Linked DNA regions of Homo sapiens. The protein of the gene in region 2 purifies or fractionates together with the protein of the main gene of each other region. This does not show direct contact. Each region holds a gene or a part of one and is shown on either strand. Other genes may lie near its edges.

What was found. Proteins that work in one complex are often made in the same cells at the same time.
Region 1: the proteins of WDR75 (region 2) and DCAF4 purify together in Homo sapiens (co-immunoprecipitation; one large-scale study listed by IntAct). This does not show direct contact.

What each region holds. Positions count from the first base shown.
Region 1 is NC_000014.9:72,932,949-72,936,600, forward strand, and holds part of DCAF4 (DDB1- and CUL4-associated factor 4), read left to right. Parts: intron 1-2,074; exon of another isoform or gene 2,075-2,238; intron 2,239-3,652. UniProt on the Homo sapiens protein: May function as a substrate receptor for CUL4-DDB1 E3 ubiquitin-protein ligase complex.
Region 2 is NC_000002.12:189,472,414-189,476,144, forward strand, and holds the end of WDR75 (WD repeat-containing protein 75), read left to right. Parts: intron 1-1,772; coding exon 1,773-1,919; intron 1,920-2,303; coding exon 2,304-2,395; intron 2,396-2,799; coding exon 2,800-3,004; 3' UTR 3,005-3,139; downstream 3,140-3,731. UniProt on the Homo sapiens protein: Ribosome biogenesis factor. Part of the small subunit (SSU) processome, first precursor of the small eukaryotic ribosomal subunit.

The DNA of each region.
Region 1 (3,652 bases), on a different chromosome or scaffold from region 2:
GGCTGGTCTTGAACTCCTAGGCTCAAGCAATCCTCCTGCCTCGGCTTCCCGAGCAGCTGGGATTATAGGCATCAGCCACTGCACCCAGCCCTGGATAATTCTTGCTGAAGAATGTGTGGAAGCTGCCCTGCGCATTGTAGGGTGGTTAGCAGCATCCCTGGCTTTTACCCACTAGGCGCTAGTAGCAGCCTACCCCTCCTTCTCCCGAGCTGTGACAAACAAAAATGTCTCCAGACATTGCCAGATGTCCCCTGGTGGGCAAAATAATCCTTAAGAAGCACTGATCTACAAACTGTGATGCATACTGGGTTTTATATTATTACTAGATAAAATTGTCTCTAATGGCCAGGTGCGGTAATCCCAGCACTTTGGGAGGCCGAGATGGGCAGATCACAAGGTCAGGAGTTCGAGACCAGCCTGGCCATTATGGTGAAACCACATCTCTACTAAAAATACAAAAATGAGCCAGGCATGGTGGCATGCGCCTGTAGCCCCAGCTATTCGGGAGGCTGAGGCAGAAGAATCGCTTGAACCCAGGAGGCAGAGGTTGCAGTGAGCCGAGATTGTGCCATTGCACTCCAGCCTGGGTGACAGAGCAAGACTCCATCTCAAAAAAAAAAAAAAAAGTCTCTAATTCTCACTGTATACCATTACCACTTTGGTGCCATTTGTCCCAGTCCATGTCACCATATCCTGTTTACTTTCAAATCTGTCTCTTTAGGCTCAATTTCTCTCTGTATTCTCAGACCCGTATTTCCCATTGCCTGCATCTTGAGATTGATTTGTTCAAAATCAGACTTACTCTCCTCTCCCCAAAGTGTTCTTCCTTTATTCTTAGTCTCCCTGCTCATGACTCTACCAGTTATTCACTTAACCTTTCTCAACTCCTCTCTCCACCTCTCCCATGAAATTTGCTGCCTAAATCTAAATCCAGGCTCCGCTATCCCAAGTACCATGTCCATAATGTGTAAGCGAGTTCATCTCACCTGGCTTGCCACTGCAGTTCTTACTTGTCACCCCATGCCGCTGCCTTTCAGGTGCCCTTTCTTAGCAGCTCTAATCATGTCACTCCTCGCACACCCAGAGTCCTCATGATCATGCCCTGTCTGCCTCTGCAGGCTCATCCCCCCCATTTCTTGAACTTCAGGCTCTGGCCATACCAAACAGCCTGCAGGCCCCCCGCCCCCACTGCCTTACGTGGCATTTTCTTTTTTTTTTTTTTGAGACGGAGTCTCGCTCTGTTGCTCAAGGCTGGAGTGCAATGGCGCTATCTCGGCTCACGGCAACCTCCACCTCCCGGGTTCAAGCGATTCTCCTGCCTCAGCCTCCCAAGTAGTGGGGATTGCAGGCGCCCACTACCATGCCTGGCTAATTTTTGTATTTTTAGTAGAGACGGGGTTTCTCCATGTTGGTCAGGCTGGTCTCAAACTCCCAACCTCAGGTGATCCACCCGTCTCGGCCTCCCAAAGTGCTGGGATTACAGGTGTGAGCCACTGCACCCGGCCTAATTTTTGTATTTTTAGTAGAGTTGGGGTTTCGTCATGTTGGTCAGGCTGGTCTCAAACTGCTGACCTCAGGTGATCTGCCCACCTCAGTCTGCCAAAGTGCTGGGATTACAGGCGTGAACCACCACGCCGGGCTTGCCTGACATTTTCATTCTTCAGACTGCACTTATCTCCCTCCCCCACCTCCAGCCCAGGCATGTGGAGCAGTCACTCCCTTCTCTCCCACCACACCTGGAGAGACCTGGGTCTTCATCCTTATCCTGTGCTGCAGGGGTTGGTCTGTGCATCTGTCTCCCATATTAAACAATCGGTGCCTCCAAGCCAGGTAGCACAGCTTATTATCTCTGCCCACTCCCCAGTGCCTCACATGGAGTGGGCGCTTTGTAAATGTGTGTGGAGTAGTAAGTGGAAATAACCCAGAGCAGAAAGAAGCTACCTGGGACTTAAATGTAAAGTAGCCACAGGTTTTGTTTTGCTTTGCTTCAGTTCAGCAAAAATTTACTAAGCACCAACTAGGTCATGGATGCTAGGAATAGAAAAAAGAACAAAGTAGGATGTTTGCCTTACAGAATTCACCTCACGTCCAGTATGAGATGGGAGTATGAACAAACAGTCATGCAGAGTGATGAGTGCAAACATGGACTATAAAGCGGCCATAGAGAATGAACTGTGTTTGTGTTTAGAGAAGACACACTCCCCACCCCTGAACAGGCTTCTTAAAAGTACTAGAAAGGTACTGTCTTTGTCCTAGCCTTTAAACTCTTACTGTATTTGGAAGGCTTCTATTAGTATGTGACTTTTTAAATGATTTTTTTTTTTGAGACGGAGTTTCACCCTTTTGCCCAGGCTGGAGTGCGGTGGTGCAATCTCAGCTCACTGCAACCTCCGCCACCTGGGTTCAAACGATTCTCCTGCCTCAGCCTCCCAAGTAACCGGGATTACAGGCACCAGCCACCACACCCAGTGAACTGTTGTACTTTTAGTAGAGACGGGGTTTCACCACGTTGGCCAGGCTGATCTCAAACTCCTGACCTCAGGTGATCCACCCGCATCGGCCTCCCAAAGTGTTGGGATTACAGGCGTGAGCCACCACATCCGGCCTTTAAAATGATTTTTGCTTGACCTTGCTAACTATATTACTTGAGGTTGGCAGGCTCCCTTACCAGATTGCAGTGCCTGTATGAGTTAGGGGTGAACACATGCTCTCCCTGGCCCAAATTGGCATTCGCCAGTGATTTTATCATCGGCTGCGTCCTGCTGATTGTGCAGCCCCCTATTGAGAATAATGGTGTGAGTGGGACACAGTCCTGCCTCCTGTGGGTGATCTGAAGTCTTTGACTCACCAGTTCGTGTGTTCTTTGCTGTATTCATGCATTGTTACATAATTCAACAAATTAGAATCATTTCATATACAGAATATGCACTCTAAAGAAATTTTGACCTTTTTATAGAGTTGGTAATAATAATAATCTTTATGTCAGTAGAGTTTATTTTTCCTATCAGTCTTTTTCTCTTTTTGAGATGGGGTCTCACTCTATTGCCCAGGCTGGTCTCAAACTCTGGGCTCAAGAGATCCTCCCACTTCAGCCTCCCAAAAGTGCTGGGATTACAGGCATGAGCTACTGCACGCAGCCATTTTCCTACCAGTCTTAACACTGGCCACACGTGCTTCCCTTCCTGTGCGCAGTCCCTTTCAGCTTGTAACTTAACTATTAATAAATACAACTGTATTCTTTAGCTGGGGTATAAGATAACTGATCCATAGGGAAACCCACACATGGTGTTCAGGAGCCATTGTTTAGGACAATGAATAAGATAAAAGTTTTGGAGCCGGGCTTGGTGGCCCACGCCTGTAATCCCAGCACTTTGGGAGGACGAGGCAGGTAGATCACTTGAAGCCAGGAGTTCTTGAGCAGCCTGGCCAACATGGTGAAACCCCATCTCTACTAAAAATACAAAAATTAGCTGGGTGTGGTGGCAGGTGCCTGTAGTCCCAGCTACTCGGGAGGCTGAGGCAGGAGAATCGCTTGAACCCGAGAGGCAGAGGTTGCAGTGAGCTGAGATGGCGCCACTGCACTCCAGCCTGGGCAACAGAGCGAGACTCCATCTCAAAAAAAAAAAAAAAATACACACACATTTGGGCTGCA
Region 2 (3,731 bases):
TTCTTTTTCTAGAACTCCTATTATTTAGTGCTGGACTTTCTAGAATGGTTCTCTATTATTCTTATTGTTTTGCCTATTTTTTGTTTGTTTTCTGGAAGATTTCCTCATCTTTATCATCAAATCTTTTTTTCTTTTTCATGGTCTGTTTCCATTACATTTTTTTTTGTTTTTGGTTTGTCTTGGTTGCTGCCTTTCATCTAGAGGTTTTCATCAGAGTCTGATGATTCTTGGCTGTCTTTGGATTTAAAAGTGGGTTAAAAAGCCACTTGGAAGTTCTCTGCCTGTGCAGAACTTATCCCTTGGCTTCCACTATCTGAGCTAATTTATTGAGACAGTCTCAAATGTCATTACAATTGACCCTTGAACAATGTAGAGATTGAAAACCTATGTATAACTTTTGACTTCCCAAAACTTAACCTGAAGCCTTACTGATAACAGTTATTTGTATTATATGTATTATATACTGTATTCTTACAATAAAGTATGCTAGAGGAAAAAAAAAAGTTAAGAAATATCATAAGGAGGCCGGGCACGGTGGTTCTTGCCTGTAATCCCACATTTTGGAAGGCCAAGGCAGGTAGATCACTTGAGGTCAGGAGTTCGAGACCAGCCTGGCCAACATGGCAAAACCCCATCTCTACTAAAAATACAAAAATTAGCCAAGCATGGTGGTGCATGCCTGTAATCCCACCTACTCGGGGGCTGAGGCAGGAGAATCACTGGAACCTGGGAGATGGCGGTTGCAGTGAGCCTAGGTCACACCACTGCACTCCAGCCTGGGTGACAGAACAAGACTCCATCTCAAAAAAAAAAATTATAAGAAAGAGAAAAATATATTTATTCATTAAGTGGAAATAGATCATCACAAAGGTCTTCATCCTCATCTTCACATAGAGTAGGCTAAGGAAGAGAAGGAGTTGATCTTGCCATCTCAGGTCTGGCAGAAATAGAAGAAACTCCACATAGACGTGTTATTCGAACCCTTGTTATTCCAAGGTTAGCTGTATCTTTAGGTCTTACTTAGGCTGGTCAAATTAACCATAAAAAATTCTATGCGTTCCTGCCTAAAGGATTTAGACCTACCTGTCAGTGTTCTGAGAACCCCCTACATGAAGTACAACTGCCTAGATATGAAGATACCACCACCACCACCACCGCTATCCATACCTAGCCTAAAGATGTAGAGCCCTCTGCTGGGGCTGAGGAGGAGCTGTGGGGTGCTTTCTAAGTAGACTTTCCACCAGCCCGTCTGGTTTGTCTAGTCCCATTTTCACCCCACATCCAGAGTTACTATTATTACCAACTCCTGAGCATTTGCAGGATTCTGTAGTATGAATTGGGATGCTTCTTGGCTTTCCCTACAGCCAGCTTAGAATTGTGCTTTCTCAGGTCTACTAAGTTCAATACCATCCTTCAGCCTGCTCTCCAGTTTCCAACATGTTACTGTTAAGGCCTTTTCCCTCATTTTCTATCATTGTGAGTATGTGCCCTTTGAAAACCCTTTTGCTGTCATTTTTGTGGGATTTGGTGAAGAAGCAGTGGTAAATGCATGTATTATTCTGTCATCTAAGTGTTCACTGTTAGCTCTTCTCATAAGTGGGATGCTAGGCCTCAGTTGCTTTCTCTGTGAAATGAGAGGATCATACTAACTGGATAATTTGTAAAATTCCTTTCATCCCAGACTTTTTATGATTCTGTAGTACTTACTGTTAAGTCAAACACAGTTCTTCCTTTTTTCTGAAATAATTTCTCTTTGTCTTAAATCCTTAAAGCTGCTAGCAGAAGAAAGTCTTCCCACAACCCCATTTTATTTCATATTGGGAAAACACAGGCAACAGCAGGATGAAAAACTAAACGAAACTTTAGAGAATGAGCTGGTACAACTACCCTTAACAGAAAACATACCCGCAATTAGTGAGGTAAGTAATTATGAAAACCATGTGAAACAGATTAAATGCACTTAAAGCACCTGAAGTTGGAGTTTTGACACAGTCAATCTGTAATTTGTATGCTGTACAACTTTAATACCCAAACTAAATAACTAACAACAAACCGAGTAACTTAACCTTGTGATCTGGGATTGTTTTGTCCTGGACCTGGTGTAGGGATAGGGGTGGTTGTTGGCATAAATGTAGGAAGGTAGAAATGTATTTTTCTTTGGTTTGGCTTTTGTATAGGGAAAGCCTTTTCATGTTTCACTCTTGGCATTTACAATAAAAGGGACTCCGTGAGGACACTGTAGGAACAGACTGCGGTGGAGGATAAGCTTTTTAATTGCAACCGTGTTTTCTGTTTGACTCCAGCTTCTTCACACTCCAGCCCATGTCCTGCCATCTGCTGCTTTCCTGTGCTCCATGTTTGTAAATTCATTGCTGCTGTCTAAAGAGACTAAGAGGTAAAGCAGTTCTTAAGACAGGTTTGGACACTCTCTTTTGGGAAACAGGATCGTTTGTGTTTATCCTTTTTTAGAGTATTCTTCCACTGTATTTCTTTTTATTTCATAAGTTTTAAAATAGATTTAAAGGCTATAGGATTATTAAGTCAAGTAACATACATTGAAAATAAGTTTCAAAAAAGATCTTGTATGTGTGTGTTTTAAGGGCTTGGTACATAATTTAAAATTACATGTTTGTAAATTCACCTGCTCTTTTATAAATAACCCATAATTTTTAAAGTGTACTTAGTAACAAAATTCTTCATTTACTTTGTGTGATTATATTTCTACATAGGTGTCAAATTAGAAAGTTACTGTTTAGAAACATTTAATAGTGTTTATATTTTATTCTGTTATTGTTAAAGTGCTAAGGAAATTCCTGAAGATGTAGATATGGAAGAAGAAAAAGAAAGTGAAGATTCAGATGAAGAAAATGATTTTACCGAAAAAGTCCAGGATACAAGTAACACAGGTTTAGGAGAAGACATTATACATCAGTTGTCAAAATCTGAAGAAAAAGAACTGAGAAAATTTAGGAAAATAGACTACAGCTGGATAGCTGCCCTTTAAGCCTTGGAGATGGGGAGGATCCTTGGACTTTGTGTTTTTGATTGTATGTTGATATTCTAAAAACATCTATTTTAATGTTATTTCTGTTCTAAAAATAAGATAATAAATATTAACAAACTTTGCTTTTTTAAAAAACTGATAATATGAACATGTATTTGCATCATGCTTTACAGTTACTGGATCATTGATATACCACATCATCTCATTTTTTTATTTTGAGTCACACATCAGCCTTATAAAACAAGTAGGTATTTTCTTCACAGGTGATACAGCAGAACTGAGACTTGAACTGTACAGCATATGTCCCCTAAGCTGCAGTTTGGAGATACGAAAAGATTTGAAAGTTAAAAGGCTTTGTTGACATAATTGTTTTAACACAAATTCATTTGGTGGCCAAATGTGACCTGAGCTGGAGTGAGGTTTCTTTAGTCCTGATTTATTCCTCTTAGTGTATTTATTTCTCTCAGAGAAATTTAGAGACGAGTTGATTATGTGGTGTTCCACAAACCTCACTGAGGATATTATATAATAATATGGGCTGCCTAAAATTCTGAATTCAGATGATCTGACCCAAAGTCCAGTTGCTAGTAGAAAACGATCCAGATCCCCTGTTTTAGTTAAAGCAGTGAAGCTGCTACATCTTAACCACCTAGCATTTTGAGTTTTCCACTTCCCTAATGCACTTTTGTAAAATTTATATTTAGAAGTTAGCACAAAAACAAAGCGT